Regions from separate parts of the Homo sapiens genome. Here region 2 is linked to region 1. The links come from fine-mapping of genetic effects on gene expression. Tissue or cell type: blood mononuclear cells. Region 1 holds a variant in brackets; the other region holds the start of a gene. All regions are shown on one strand. Distances are between the middles of the regions.

Evidence for each region. PIP is the estimated chance that this variant, and not a neighbour inherited with it, causes the effect.
Region 2: it holds the start of WSB2, and the variant in region 1 is fine-mapped to the expression of WSB2 in blood mononuclear cells (TOPMed, PIP above 0.99). The same link has a PIP of 0.9 or more in whole blood.

The regions. Positions count from the first base shown.
Region 1 is chr12:117,931,050-117,939,153 of GRCh38, reverse strand. The region is part of intron 1 of KSR2 (kinase suppressor of ras 2); the gene reads left to right. Among named protein-coding and RNA genes, the nearest start is that of KSR2, 34 kb to the left of the region's middle. The variant C/T (reference allele first, on the strand shown) is at 3,532.
Region 2 is chr12:118,056,443-118,064,546 of GRCh38, reverse strand. It overlaps WSB2 (WD repeat and SOCS box containing 2), which reads left to right and starts at 3,368. Exons shown (of 9, transcript NM_018639.5): 1 at 3,368-3,511. The coding sequence starts at 3,499. VSIG10 (V-set and immunoglobulin domain containing 10) reads left to right here. Exons shown (of 9, transcript NM_019086.6): 9 at 1-954. It overlaps LOC124903030 (a long non-coding RNA gene), which reads right to left and starts at 3,087. Exons shown (of 2, transcript XR_007063479.1): 1 at 2,867-3,087. RefSeq lists a silencer at 3,909-3,958.

The sequences.
Region 1 (8,104 bases):
AAATATTTATACACAAAAGAGGACTGTATTTATTGAAGTCGTCACTGTGATTATATCTGCCTTGCCCTAGCTCTGCTGACAGTACTTAAAATATTCTTACACGCTGTCTTCAGTCACTTTACAGGAAAACAAGTCTATTTACTTTCCTTTTTTTTTTTTTGACCCCAGATGGTAGCATTTACTGTGTCTGCTTGACTGATTCCCAGTGATTTTTGTTCATTTAAAATGCATAAATAGTCCAGTCCACTCTTAACAAGATGTGCTGCCATTGATGATGATCACGATAATGTTCTGGACACGGTATCTGAAAGGGAACTCAAGAAGCAGCGTCATAGCTTTGGTGTTGGGATAAGAATTCAGCCATTTATAATGTCTACTTGGTGGTTATTTTTGTTTGTTTGTTTAGAGACAGTTTTGCTCTGTTGCCTAGGCTGGGGTGCAGTGGCATGATTATGGGCTCACTGCAGCCTTGAACTCTTGGGCTCAAGTGATCTTCCTGCCTCAGCCTCCTGAGTAGTTAGGACTATTGGGGTACACCACCATGCCCGGTTAATTTTTTTTTTTGCCTTTATTTATTTATTTATTTATTTATTATTATTATACTTTAAGTTTTAGGGTACATGTGCACAATGTGCAGGTTAGTTACATATTTTTAAATTTTTTGTAGAAATGAGGTCTCTCTATGTTGCCTAGGCTGATCTCGAACCTCTGGACTCAAGCGATCCTCCCACCTCTGTCTCTCAAAGTGCTGGGATTACAGGCATGAGCCCCCACACCTGGCCTATGATGTCTGCTTTGAAAGGCAAGCTGGTTGTTGAGCTCAGCATTCATTCAGTCCTTCATTTATTCCACTTTACGTTAAATGCATTAGATACACAAATGTCAGTCTGGCATGTGTGGAAATAATGATGTACAAATATGTGTTGCACGTCAGGCACCGTGCTGGGTACTGGGACACAGAATACATGCCTTCACGTCGTGGATCTGGTGACGTGATGCTAAAGCGAAGACCTGAAGGATGACAGCATTAGCTAGAGACGAGGAAAGGGTGTTCCAAGCAGCAGGAACAGTATGCACAAATGCCAAGAGTTAGGAGATAGCATGGGGCATTTGAGGAACCAAATGAAGTCCAACATGGGAGGAGTCTAATATGTTTCAGGCTTTTTTTTTTTTTTTTTTTTTCTTGAGACAGAGTCTGTCTTTGTTGCTCAGGCTGGAGTGCAGTGGCACTGTCTTGGCTCACTGCAACCTCTGCTTCCTGGTTCAAGAGATTCTCCTGCCTCAGCCTCCCGAGTAGCTGGGATTACAGGCGTGCACTGCCACGCCTGGCTAATTTTTTTTTTTTTTTGTATTTTTAGTAGAGATGGGGGTTTCTCCATGTTGCCCAGGCTGGTCTCGAACTCCTGACCTCAAGTGATCCACCCGCCTCAGCCTCCCAAAGTGCTGGGATTACAGGGGTGAGCCACTGTGCCTGGCTCAGGCTCATCTGGAGACAAAGGGATAGGACCACATATTTTCCTGTCTTTAAACTGGGTTCCTTTGCGTCTCCTTCCTGCCTCATCTCCTTATTATAGGAAAATAAGGCAGTCTCATTTGCCAAATTGAATCAAACTCTCTAATATATGATCTCCACTTCTCAAATATGATTTGAAAGTATAACATTAATTTATTGGTCCCCTAAGGTAGAGGCAGGTTCTTTAACACCAGAACAAACACAAGCCACTTCATAATGATAATAATAGTAATAATAATAATAATAGATGGGCAAGATCTTGAGAAGGGTAGGGTGGAGGGAGGGGAAATAAAGCCAGGAGAAAAGAGGTGGTGAAACGGAAATACATTTGAAATCTCCTGCTTTGTGGTTTATGATTAACAGCAGGGCAGAAAATGTCTCTGCAGAGTTATGAAAAATTCATTGGTAGCATGCTACAGGTCTGAGAAGCTGGTCATTGTTTGATCAGATTAACTATAATAAGAGCAGTCTTAAATTAACTCAGATTAAGAGGAGAACTTTCCCCCGCTACTATTTAGTCATATGTGTATAATCACATTTCCTTGCAGCCGGTTGCCCCTAGTTGTCTGCTAAGACGGTAGCTGGGGTCTTCAGTAAGGTGGAACCAAGAGGGGAGAGGGTGGGCTGAGCCCAGATACCACCTTGAGGCTGGGGGCAGATGGAGGAGGCGTCCCTGGGCACCCTCTGGGCTCTGGCTCATGTTTGTCTAGTCTCCCAGACACCACCCTTCTGTTTTTCAGACCTGTTTCCTTTTTCCTGGGTCAGCTTCATCCCAGCTTATGGTTTCCCAGTATGGGGCACCTGCCATGTGCCGTGCAATGTTCTAGGTGCTAGGGATATATGTCTGAGAGCAAAACAGGCTAAGAGCCCTGTGCTCTTGTAGCTCACATTCTAGGTGGGGGAGACAGACAACAAACAAATAAAAGCTGTTTTCACAGTCACTGAATAGGGAAGCTGGCCAGGCACAGCGGCTCATGCCTCTAATCCCAGCATTTTGGGAGGCCAAGATGGGACCATCTCTCAGGAGTTCAAGACCAGCCTGAGCAACAAAGCGAGACCCTGTCTCTACTACTACTACTACTACTACTACTACTACTACTACTACTAATAATAATAATAATAATAATAAAATAATAATAATGATAAAGTAGCCAGGCATGGTGGTGTGCACCTGTAGTCCCAGCTACTCTGGAGGCCGAGGTGGGAGGATCACATGAGCACAGGAATTTGCAGCTGCAGTGAGCCATGCTTGTGCCATTGCATTCCAGCGTGGGCAACAGATTGAGACCGTGTCTTAAAAATAAAATAATTTAGGCCTGGTGTGGTGGCTCATGCCTGTAATCCTAGCACTTTGGGAGGTCAAGGCAGGCAGATCGCTTGAACTCAGGAGTTCAAGATTAGCCTGGGCAACATGGCAAAACATCATCTTTATGAAAAATTAGCTGGACATGGTGGCTCTTGCCCGTGGTCCCAACTACTCAGGAGGCTGAGGTGGGAGGATCACTTGAGCCTGGGAGGCAGAGTTGCAGTGAGCTGAGATCACACCACTGTACTCCAGCCTGGGTGACAGAGAAAGACCCTGTCTCAAAAAAAAAAAGTTCAATAAATGGAATAAGGAAGCTATCAAGGATGATAGAAGGTGACAAGTACTATGGAAAAAAGAAAAAAGCAGAGCAGGCTTCATGAAAAAGGTGACATTTGAGCAAAGACTTAAAGGAACTGAGGGAGTGATCCCGGGGACCTCTGGGGGGAAAAGCACTCAGAGAGAGGCCACCGCATGTGCCAAGCCCCTGAGGTGTCTGAGGAACAGCTAGGAAGCTTGTGTGACCAGAGTGGAGTGGGACCAGATCATGAGAGCCTTTATTTATTATTTATTTATTTGAGACTGAGTCTCACACTGTTGCCCAGGCTGGAGTGCAGTAGCGCAATCTTGGCTCACTGCAATCTCCACCTCCCTGTTCAAGCAATTCTTATGCCTCAGCCTCCTGAGTAGCTAGGATCACAGGCGCCCACTACTA[C/T]GACCGGCTAACTTTTGTATTTTTAGTAGAGGTGGGGTTTCACCATGTTGGCTGGGCTGGTCTCGAACTCCTGACCTCAAATGATCCACCCACCTCGGCCTCCCAAAAGTGCTGGGATTACAGGCATGAACCACCATGCCCGGCCCATGAGAGCTTTTGAGACCAGTGTAAACATTTTACCCCATGAAATGAACACATTGGAGGGTTTTGAGCAGAGGAAGAGTGGGATCTGACTTCAGTTTTAGCAGCATCTTTCTAGTCACTGGTTGAGAACAGACTCTAGGGGCCTGAATAGAAGCAGGTGGATGAGTCAGAAGACTGCAAGCAGGGTGTGGTGGTGCATGCCTATGATTCCAGCTACTTGGGAGGCTGAGGAGGGAGGATTGCTCGAGCCAGGAGGTCAAGGCTGCAGTGAGCTGTGATCGGGCCATTGCACTCTAGCCTGGGCAACAGAGCAAGACAAGACCCTGTGTGAAAAAAGAAGAAGAATAAGAAGGCAGGGCAAGGTGGCTCAGACCTGTAATCCCAGCGCTTTGGGAGGTTGAAGCAGGAGGATCACTTGAACCCAGGAGTTTGAGACCAGCCTGGGCAAGGTAGCAAGAGCCTGTCTCTACAAAAAATTTTTAAAAATTAGCTGGGTGTGGTGGTGCATGCCTGTGGTTCCAGCTACTCAGGAGGCTGAGGTGGGAGGATCCCTTGAACCCAGGAGTTCAAGGCTGCAGTGAGCCATGCTCGTACCACTGCACTCCAGCCTGGGTGACAGAGCAAGACTCTGTCTCAAAAAGAAAAAAATTTAAAATATAAATAGAAGAAGAAGACGACTGTGGCTTGCACCAGGCCGGTGAGCCATGGTTGGATTTTGGTTATATTTAGAACTTAGAGTGAACAGGATTTCCAGATGTTTTTGACCTTGCCTGTTGACTGATAGAAAATGTGATGATATTCACTGATTGTATTCATCTGAGCCCCTTTGTTTGCGAGTGTGAGAAACTTATCTCAAACTGGTTCAACAAAAATGGGGAGTTCTTTGGCTTGTGGGACTGAGATGTTTATGGGTAGCACTGGCTTCAGCGTGGCTAGATCCAGGTACTTGACAAAGCAAAGCCTTGTCTACACCTCTCAGTTTGGCTTTCTTTCTGGATTGCTTTCATCCAAACAGCCTTTCCTTACGGTGGCAGAATGGCCACTGGAAGTGCCACACTTGCATTTTATCACCTTGCTTGTAGGAAGAGCGTGATTATTTCTCAGTGGCTCCAACAAATTTCTGGGGTATCCTATTCACCAGCCAGGAGTGCTTCATTTCTCTACTCCTGGAGTCAAAAGGGAGCGGTGTTGTCATGGGTCAGTTCTGGAGCCAGGGAGCGAGATCAGTCCCTTCCAAGCCCTGTGGACCAAGCAGGGATGTTCTCCAAACAAAAGCTGGGATGCTGTTACTCAAAGATAATGAGCTTGGCTGGAGGATACAATAGATTCTGTTGTTCCAATGTAGCCAGAATTCTTAATCCAGAATTCCAGCAAATGCAGAAAATTCTAAGTAGGGCATAAGGATCAAAAGGGTAAAGAACATATTACTAGGAATGTCTGGATATTCAGAGTGGGATGTTTCAGAGTTTGCAACGTCGGCTGGATTTAAATAATAGCTCTCCCTCCACTCATGCACTCTGAAGCCAAGTGTGGTCACACATCTGCCCTCCCATTTAAGAGGCGCCATGTATCTTTTTTGGGATGGTGAGTGGATGGAGAACTGGAGCACGGTGCTGGGTCCCAGCTCTGCCACCCTCTTGCTGTGTGTCGCTTGGGCAAGTTACATAACTTTACTGAGCCACAGGATACTGGGAGGATCAAGGGTAAGAAGATTTTAAAGTACTTGGGAAACTGTGGCCCCGCAATTTAGGGCTTGGTTGTAGTGTGCCATAACCATAAACCAAAGTACTTTATGACTTTGCTGTTTATCGGGTTTCCTGATAAAATATAGGATGCTCTTTTAAATTTGAATTTCAGATAAACAATGCATACTTTATTTTTTTTTTTGAGACAGACTCTTGCTCTGTCACCCAGGCTGGAGTGCAGTGGCATGATCTCAGCTCACTGCAAGCTCCGCCTCCCGGGTTCATGCCATTCTCCTATAGGTCAGCCTCCCAAGTAGCTGGGACCACAGGCGCCCGCCACCACACCCGGCTAATTTTTTGTATTTTCAGTAGAGACGGAGTCTCACCGTGTTAGCCAGGATGGTCTTGATCTCCTGACCTCGTGATCTGCCTGTCTCGGCCTCCCAAAGTTTTGGGATTACAGGCATGAGCCACCACGGCTGGCCAACAATGCATACATTTTTAGTATAAGTATGCTTGAATACTGCACAGAACATACTTATACTAAAAATTATTTGTTGTTTATCTGACATTCTCATTTAACCAAATGTCTTTTTATTTGCTAACTCTGGCAAATCTAGGTGATCATAACAAGTGGAATGTGTTATCACCGACCACTCATTACTAACCCCTGACAGCCACTTCATGCTAACATTGGGAAGAACCCCCAAATGGTAGACATCACTAGTATTTTCTGATTGGGTGTGCATGATCTTTTTGTTTTTATTTATTTATTTATTTTGAGACAGAGTCCCGCTCTGTCATCCAGGCTGGAGTGCGATGGCACTATCTGGGCTCACTGCAACCTCTGCCTCCCAGGTTCAAGCGATTCTCCTGCCTCAGCCTCCTGAGTAGTTGGGATTGCAGGCACCCACCACCATGCCTGGCTAATTTTTGTATTTTTAGTAGAGATGGGGTTTCACCATGTTGGTCAGGCTGGTCTCCAACTGCTGACCTCAGGTGATCTGCCCGCCTCAGCCTCCCAAAGTGTTGGGATTATGGGCGTGAGCCACTGCACCCGGCCTATTTATTTGAGACAGGATCTCACTCTGTCACCCAGGCTGGAGTGCAGTGACGTGATCACAGCTCACTGCAGCCTCGACCTCCTGGGCTCAGGTTATCCTCTCACCTCAGCCTCCTGAGTAGCTGGGACTGCAGGTGTGTGCCACCACACCTGGCTACTACTTTTTTTGTATTTTTTTGTAGAGATAGGGTTTTGCTGTATTGCCCAGGCTGGCTTTGAACTCCTGGGCTCAAGTGATCTTCCCACCTTAGCCTCCCAAAGTGCTAAAATTACAGGCATGAGCTTCTGTGCCTGGCCTGTTCTTATTTTTGACTGTAGTGTTATGATCAAGTGTGAATTCTGGAATTTGTCTGGCCTGTGCTTCTTGTGAACATATGTCAACTGTATAACACCATGATTAAGTATCATTTTAAGATAGGTTTAATTAATTAATTAAATTTTTTGAGACAGAGTCTTGCTTTTGTCACCCAAGCTGGAGTGCAGTGGCACTATCTCAGCTCAATGCAACCTCTGCCTCCTGGGTTCAAGCGATTCTCCTACCTCAGCCTCCTGAATAGCCGAGATTACAGGCGCCCACCATCATGCCCAGCTAATTTTTGTATTTTTAGTAGAGATGGGGTTTTGCCATGTTGACCAGGTTGGTCTCAAACTCCTGACCTCAGGCGATCCACCCGCCTTAGCCTCCCAAAGTGCTGGTATTACAGGCATGAGCCACCGTACCTGGCCAGGTTTAAGTTTCAGATAGCAGTGTTGTCTTTCTAAGTTATGGAGCCATAACCTTGGGCATAATGTCCTCCATGTCTTTGAATCCCCATCTGTAAAAATAGGATGTTTACCTCCTAATGTTGGCATGAGGATTAGACAATAGGTGCAAAATGCTCAGCTCAGTGTCCTGTATGTGACAGGCACTCAATGTTAACCATTGCAGTTATAGTAAATATATAGAAATTAATCTGGCTGGTCTAGAATAACCTGGGTTTGGTTTTCTGAATGAACTTCTCAGCTCTATTTGGAAATTTTCTGGTTGTATTGTTCCTATGGTTTGGGCTCCGTGCCTAGCAGACTGAATTCCTAAAGCAGAATAGCAAGATGCAGTCTTGAATCTTGACACGTATGAGCAGCTTTCAGCTCTAAATTGTTGGGAAGGGTGACGGATGGGAAGAGAGAACGTCTAGCAGTGGTTTGGACTGGGTTGTTCCTAGAATTGGTGGACATGACTGTGGCAGTCTTGACTCAAGATTGTGCCCCACATCCAGGCGGGCACGACCTCTTTAGCAAGGGAGATTGGATACAGGAGTGTGACCTGAATCCGAGCCATGGTGATGTCCTTCTTTTTGAGTCATTCTCTGAAGCCCTGGTCCCTAACTATTCTCATCTATTCTTCACCTGCAGGCCCTGAACAAATGGCTGAGATAGTTAAAAATGAATTCCCAGGTCATCAGAAGTATTCGATGGCTGCCTAGGAACAGGGCGTGGACTGGGCTAGGCCAAAGTGCTATCTGTGTCTTATGCTTGCTTCTTTTTGGTTGAGATCCTTTAAAATGAAAATATTTTTCAAGCTTGGTGTTTTTATCCATATGACACTTTGAGAGAAATGTTTTTAGATGTCTGTGGGAGACACAGCCGCTGAAGTCTCTGCTCCGCACGACTCTCTTGGAGTTTCTGTAAAAAGAGTGTGCTT
Region 2 (8,104 bases), 130 kb before region 1:
CTTTAGAGTCTTCGGCAACCAAATTCCAGAATTGAAGAGTCTACTACTCAGAGGCAACAAGATTAAAAAAAGAAAACACAAAAACTGTTGAGGTGAAAAAAAAAAAAAACCCTAGCTAGGAACACAGAGAATGTTTTGTAGGATCACTGGGATATTTTCCACAACTTCCTCTTCTCTAGCACACACATCTGTTGATAGGAAATATTTGAGGGTTTTTCCACTACCAAATGGGAGCTTCATGGTCCTGGTGTCAAACACTATAAACCTTTGACCAGCTGAGCTGTGACTGCTGTCACATATCTGAGTCCTGTGTGCACAGTAATATCCTGGGTCAGGTAAAATCCAGGTCTTCAAGTTTTAAGGATTTTTTGAAGAATTCGGGCTTCTTTAAGACGATCCATGCCCAAATCCACAAGCTTGTTGACAGTGGATTACAGTTTGTGTGGCAAAGTCCAAGTTGTTACACTGTGCTTTAAAAAAAATCTTATCTGCATGTATTGTTAACTTAGAGACCATGAGATCTATTTATCAGGACCAGGAAGATACACACTTCAGGTCCATTGCAACTGACTTTTTTCTTGTTTTTCTCAAACCCTGGTGGAGCCTGGGAAGGGGGCCTCCACAATTCTGTGGCTTTGATATTAGCCCCAATTCTCACAAGCACATACAAGCCCCATAATTGCCGCAGGAAAACACAAGATGGAAAATTGCAATAACCCATGCACTGAGACTTAGAAAATCATCCTTACTAGGCAAAATGTATTATGATGCAATAAGTGCCAACTGATATTTCTCACGTTGGGACTGGCCAGGAACTGCTGCAAAGAAAAATAAGCAGCTCCTTCTCCATTATTTACATTTTAAGATGTGGTGGGGGGAGGTTGGGAGAAATTAGTTCTGAGGTTATCATATGCCTTTTTTAAAAGATAATGGAATAAAGCTATTTTTAAGTAAGTGCTTTTGTGATCTTGATTGAGACCTGGTTAGTAAATTGAAAGACTTGGAAAAACGAACTTGCCAAAAAAAATTTTTTTTACTAGCTTTTTAAAAATTGGTAACAATATTCTTCTCACCTCAGCCCCGCCTTTTTTGTTTTTTTTTTTTTTTTTTCCTCCAGACGGAGCCTCCATCACCCAGGCTGGTGTGCAATGGCAAGATCTCAGCTCACTGCAACCTCCACCTCCTGGGTTCAAGTGATTCTCCTGCCTCAGTCTCCCGAGTAGCCGGGTTTACAGGTGCCCGCCACCACACCCAGCTAATTTTTGTATTTTTAGTAGAGATTGGGTTTGGCCATATCGGCCAGGCTGGTCTCGAACTCCTGACCTCAGGTGATCTGCCCGCCTTGGCCTCCCAAAGTGCTGGGATTACAGGCATGAGCCATCGCGCCCCGCGACCTTACCCTTTTATTCTTTTCCATGACGTGTACATAAAAACGAGGCCTGTAAGACTCCAGGAATCGAAGGAATTTGGGAGACAAAAAATGGAGACTCAGAAAATTAGAGAAGAGAAAAATGGGAGGGGGGAGCCTGGACAATAAAACGGGGGTCCTCAGGAGGCAGGAAATTAGCGATTAAATGGGAGCAGAGGTGGAGGAGGCCGACACTGGTGCCAGAGATAAAAGTGGAGTCCCAAAAAAAGGGGTGCGCTGGGCCGTTTTTAAAATTGGGAAACATAAAAAATACCCAGTGGAAAATGAAGAGAGAGAACGGGGCATGCTAAAGTTAACATGGGCGGCGAGAAAGGGACAGGTAGCCAGCGGAAAAGGGGGAGACTGAGAAACCGGCAGGTTCAAAGAAAAGAAAAAAAAAAACCGGCCAAGCGGGGTGAACAGGAGTGTAACCCAGGAGGCCAAACGGGACACAGGAAGGACGTACCCAGGGCTCATAAAACAGGGGCCTGGGTAAAAAAACCCGAAACATTAAAACGGAGAGACCATGGTGAAAAAGAACACGGGAACCTCAGTTACCGTAGAAAACATAGGTTGCGTTAGGAAGCAAAGAAATTTAAAATGGAACCACTGCGATCCGGAGCTCTGGGACCAGTGACCGGCAAATGGAGAGGGCACTTGGAGGGAAGCGAAGAAAGGCGGGGAGAAAGGAATGAGAGGCGGGAGAGTGACTTGAATGAAGCTGACACCAAGAACCGCGGGAAGAGCTTGGGCCCAAAGCAGGAAAGGGAAGCGCTCGAGTTGGGGGTAAGGGGAGGCATTTTGGGGACAATGAGCTGAGCTCAGTAAGAAATCCCCAAGCCACTGATACTACTGGGGACCGGACAACTAAGAAATGGGGTCTTTCAGGCATGAAAAGCCTCCATGATGACTCCTGCCCTGGCCCTGGAATGTTAAAAAGGGGGCGTCTGACCCAAGCGAGCCATTTCTTGAGGCTATGCGGGTAGACAGGGAGAGCAGGTTTCTCAGGGGGACGGGGACAGGCGAGGCTGTCGCCGTAGGTAGGTAAGGGGACAGTCTTCTTCCGAATCGCTCCTGCCCCGTTTTTTATCTCGTTCCCACCCCCACTCCGGTTTTCACCCTGCCCTCCTCTCCCCACCGCCCCGTGTTCTCCTCACTTCCCTCTCCCATTACCGGAGCCATTGAGTAGCCCCCCTTGTTTTACCCTAGCCTTGACCCTCGCCGCACCCCCCAATTCTTACGTCCTCCCCAGCACCCGGTTATTACACCTTCCTTCCACCCCCTCCCCATTTTCCCCTAAGCCCAGCTCTCCCCAGGTTTCTTCTCGGCCAGTATTCCCTCCAACCTATTTCTCCCGCCCCCATTTTTACCCGTTTCCCCCCTCATCGGCCTTCGCATGGCTCCATTTTCACCTGCCCCTCCCCTCGATTTCGCTTCAGCCCCTTTGGTTCCCCTTACCCCCACAGCCCTCGGTCTCCCTCTCTCCGTTCTCCCCGGATCGCCGCTTCCCCTGCTTGGTTTTTCTCTCAGCCCGGCTCTACCACTCTCCAACACCCCCTTTTCCCCTGAGCCCGGCTTCCCCTACTCCGGTTTCTATCGCTCCCCTTTTCCCGGTTTCCCTCAGCTCTGTTCACCTCCCTCCCTTCCCCGTTTTTATCCGGCGCTGGTTCCCCTCAGGACCCCGCACAACCCCTGGGTTTTATCCCGTTCGCGCCCCACCCCGTTTCCGCTCAGCTCCCCCCACCCCTGCCCCATTTTTATCTGGTTCGCGCGTCTTCCCCGCCCCCGTTTCCCCTGAGCAACCCCTCAGCTTTTATCCCGTCAGCGTACCGCCTCCCCGATTTTCCATCTTTTCCCTCAGCTGCCCCCCACCGTTTTTATCCCGTCCGCACCCCCCCTCCGTTTCCCCTGCGCCCCGCCCCCGCGCGTCTCCGCCCGCGCCCACCGCCATGTGACGGGAAGCAGCTGATGGCCTCTCCGGGCGGCGGCGGCGGCCTGGCCGGGGCGGGCGGCGCGGGGGCGGCATGAGGGCCCGCGGCCCGGGGGGCTGAGGCGCCCGCCGCCTGCCGCGGGGGCCGCTCGCGTCCTCCATGGAGGCCGGAGGTGAGTGGGGCCGGGCGCGCCCGTTCCCGCCCGGCGGGGCCCTGGCCCGTTCTCCCCGGGGAGGGGGGAGGCGACCCCGGGGCGGGCTGGGCGGGGTGGGGCGGGGGCTGGACGCGGCGGGGGCGTCCGGCCTGGGAGGTCCGCGCGGGGCCGGCGGGGGTGCGCGCCCGGCGACCAGCTTTGTTTCACTTTCGTTGTCAGTGGCCGCCACCCTGACTCCCGCCGGCGACAGGATCGGGAAGATCGGGCTTCTGCGGGAGGAGATCCCCCGACCGGGACAGAGGGGGCTCCCGGGTGGGACTCGGGGCGGGGGGCACCAAGCCCTAAAACGGAGATCCCCAAGGGGGTGGGTGCCCCTGGGTACCCAGGTGCCAGGGGACGCACTTGCATGTCTGGATGGGAGTCACCTCTGTCCCTCACAAGCTGTGTGATCGTGACAGTGGACAAGCCACTGAACCACCGCCACCCACGTCTCAGTTTTGATCTGCAAAATGGGATAATCCTAGTACCTTCCTCGGAGGGTGGCTGGGACCCGGTAAAAATGGGGTCTGGGGTCTGGGTTCCCTATTGAAACAATCTATTCCCAGCCTCTCCCACTGGAGATTAAGTCAGTGGAGGTGGGGCGGGACTGGAGACGCTGATCCCTGGTGACATGTATGATCAGGCAAATTTAGGATACACTGATGGGTGGGGACCTTGCCTCTATTCTTGTTAACTGCCATCCCCATCAGAAGACAGCGTGGAAGTCAGAGGATATTGGATATACCTCAAGCCAGCCCAGATGAACATAAAATCTCAGTGGGAAAGGTGTGTCTCTTATGCAAGGGGAAAAAAACCCCAAGACGCATGCACGCCTTGGCCCTCTCCCCTCCAACGACCTTCCCTCGGAACCCCACTTGGGATAGATTTAGAATTGATTCCGGGAGTCCCAGGTCTTGAAGGACCCGAGTTTAAATGTAATTTCCTTAGGAGAAATTTTCAGAGCAGGTTCAAGGCCTAGGGCTCAGAATTTGTTCCAGAACTTCATGGTAATCTTGCAGCCAAGTTCAAGCTTCATCCTGGTCTGGAGGGTTCTGATTGCTGATGGCTTGTTACTGTGGGTGGGAAGGTTGAAATCTGGGTATTCCCTGGGGTGGTGTTACTTTTTAATTTAGGAAATGACATTTCTTTGTTTGCTGAAGTCAGGCATTGAGTTAAAGGCAGCTCTCTCTCCTTCCCATCTAGATAAGGGCTTTCTTTTCAGTGAGTGTTACCCGTAGAATTCTTTTTAAAAGGGCCCCTACTGTTTGTGTAGATCCTATGTGAATCTTTTTATAGCTTCCGTTTGATTTCCATTGCCTCCTTACAGTTCAATCTGAAAGCAATCTGTAGCTAGCCTGCCTTTTTAACAGAAATCTGTTTCCAGTTCTGGGGTTTTCCTAAAGATTGACAACTTCGTTTTGAGGGTGTGGGCAGGGTTGTTGAGAGCTGCCAAGTTACTGTACAAAAAAGGCCAGAGTTTTAACTTATTTTCAAATGGAATAAAGCCCATTGTAAAGGAAATACAATGGGCAACAGTTGAAATCTTCAGAGCAATGGTTAGACTTCACTTATTCATTCAGCAAATATTTGTTGAACGTCTACTATGTGCCAGGCACCCTCTAGGCCAGCCCCGACCAACAGAAGTCTAATGTGAGCCACGTATGTAATTTAAAATGTTCAAGTAGCCACATTAAAAAAAAGAAAAAAGAACTAGGTGACAATTTAAAAACTCTTTCAATACAACATGTCTAAAATATTCCTGCTACATGTAATCAAATAAATTGTAATGTAATGTTTTAGATTTTTTTTTGTGCTAAGTGTTCAAAACGTGTTGTGTATTTTTTACTTACAGCCCATCTGAATTCTGACTTGCCACATTTCAAGTGGTTGGTAACCACATGTGATTTCCCTATTAGACAGTGTAGCCCAATAGCAGTGAACTGGCAAGTTTGGGTGGGTTCAGAAAGAGACAGACAATAAATACGTAAAAATGACAGGCAATCAAGAAAATATCAACCAAATGCGCCGGGGTGGCTCACGTCTGTAATCTCAGCACTTTGGGAGGCTGAGGCGGGCAGATCACTTGAGGCCAGGAGTTCGAGACCAGCCTCACCAACATAATGAAACTCCGTCTCTACTAAAAATACAAAATTAACCAGGCGTGGTGGTGCATACCTGTAATCCCAGCTACTCAGGAGGCTGAGGCAGGAGAACCGCTTGAACTGGAGAGGTGGAGGTTGCAGTGAACCAAGATCTCGCCATTGCACTCCAGCCTGGGCAACAAGAGTGAAACTCCATCTCAAAAAAAAAAAAAGAAGAAGAAAATATCTAAGTGATGGTTATAAAGAAAATCAAATGGTTAAAGGAAAGTGAATGGTGCCAGGCGCAGTGGCCCAGCAGTTTGGGAGGCCAACTTGGGTAGATCACTTGAGCTCAGGAGTTTGAGACCAGTCTAGGCAGCATGGCAAAACCCCATCTCTGCAAAAAATACCGAACTATAGGCGCGTGCATGGTAGAATGTGCCTGTAGTCCCAGCTACTGGGGAGGCTGAGATGGGAGGATCATCTGAGCCTGGGGAGGTCGAGGTTGCAGTGAGCCGTGATGGTGCTACTGCATTCCAGCCTGGGCAACAGAGCAAGACCCTGTCTCAAAAAAAATAAAAAATAAAAAAGGAAAGTGTATGGTCGCTTTAGATAGTGAGGCCAGGATGGTCTCTGAGAAGGTGACATGAGGACCAATCCCTGAATGATAAGATGGAGCAACTGAGGAAAGCTTTTGAGGCCGGTGGAATATCTAATGTACATGTCCTGATACAGGAAAAATCACCTAGCTTCCTGCTGGCTGGGGTCATAGCTTTCATCTCTGTGTTAAGGCTAACTGCTTTGCCTAGAAGAGGCTTATAATATATACCTTTCCATTCAGCCTGATTGTCCAAACACATCCCATTGTTTAATTAGAACACCCTGATCCAGGGCCAGGTGCAATGGCTCATGCCTGCAGGAGAATCGCTTGAGCTCAGGAGATCAAAACCAGCTTGGTCAACATAGCCAGACCCCCATCTCTACTAAAAATTTAATTTAAAAAAAAAAAAAATGCTGAGTGTGGTGGTACGCCCCCGTAGCCCGATACACAGGAGGCTGAGGCGGGAGGATCACTTGAATCTGGGTGGGAGATTGAGGCTGCAGTGAGCTGTGATTCAGCCACTGCACCCCAGCCTGGGTCTCAAAAAAAAAAAAAACCCAAATATATATATGAATATGATATACTTGAAATTTGCTAAGAGTAGATTTTAAGTGTTCTCACCACACAAAAATAAGTATGTGAGGTAATGCATATATGGTAATGAGCTTGACTGAGCCATTCCACAATGTATACATATATCAAAACATGTTATATTCCATAATATATACAATTTTTATTTATCAGTTTAAAAAAGAAGAGGCTGGACGCGGTGACTCACGCCTGCAATCCCAGCACTTTGGGAGGCCGAGGTGGGCAGATCACCTGAGGTCAGGAGTTCGAGACCAGCCTGGCCAAAATGGTGAAACCCCATCTCTACTAAAAATACAAAAATTAGCCAGGTGTGGTGGCGCATGCCTGTAATTCTAGCTACTCGGGAGGCTGAGGCAGGAGAATCACTTGAACCCAGGGGGCGGAGGTTGCAATGAGCCGAGATGGCGCCACTGCACTCCAGCCTGGGCAGCAGAGTGAGACTCTGTCTCAAAAAAAAAAGGAGAAAACAAAGAAACCCTGATTCATAGGCCTTTTCACCAAGAAGGATCTACAAGTACCATACCAGTTGAAGCTAGATACCCCACCCCCAGCTCTGTTTTTGTTTGTTTGTTTTGTTTTTAAGTTCTGCACTAATTAGGGCTTTCTCTCCGTGTAGCCAAGTTTAGTTTGGGCCCAGACTCCAAGAGACAGGAGTCACTGGGTTTGTTCTTCTTTTAGCTCCTGGATTCCTGAACCTGAAATAGCAAGAGATTAAATCCCTAAATCACAGAAATAGAGTGTGAATTCTGAGTAGGGCTTGTGTTTAAGAAGCATTTCATGTGAAATGTTTGGCATAAGCATCATCAGAGTTTAAGGGGCTTTATTTATTTTTTATTTTTTGGGGACAGAGTCTTGCTCTGTCACCCAGGCTGGAGTACAGTGGTGCAATCTTGGCTCACTGCAACCTGCACCTCCCGGGTTCAAGTGATTCTCCTGCCTCAGCCTCCCGAGTAGCTGCGACTACAGGCGCCCGCCACTATGCCCGGCTAATTTTTGTATTTTAAGTAGAGACGGGGTTTCACCACGTTGGCCAGGCTGGTCTTGAACTCCTGGCCCCAAGTGACCTGCCTGCCTCGGCCTCCCAAAGTGTTGGGATTACAAGCATGAGCTACCATGCCTGGCCAGCTTTATGTTACTTTTTTGTTTAAAGAGTTATACCATATGTATTTATTAGACAAATATTTACTCACTGCCTGCCCTCCACCAGGAACTCTGCCAGCTCTGGGGATAAATATACAAAGTTCTTGCTCCCTGGAGTTGATATCCTAGTGGAGGGGAGACAGATGGCGATCAAATGGT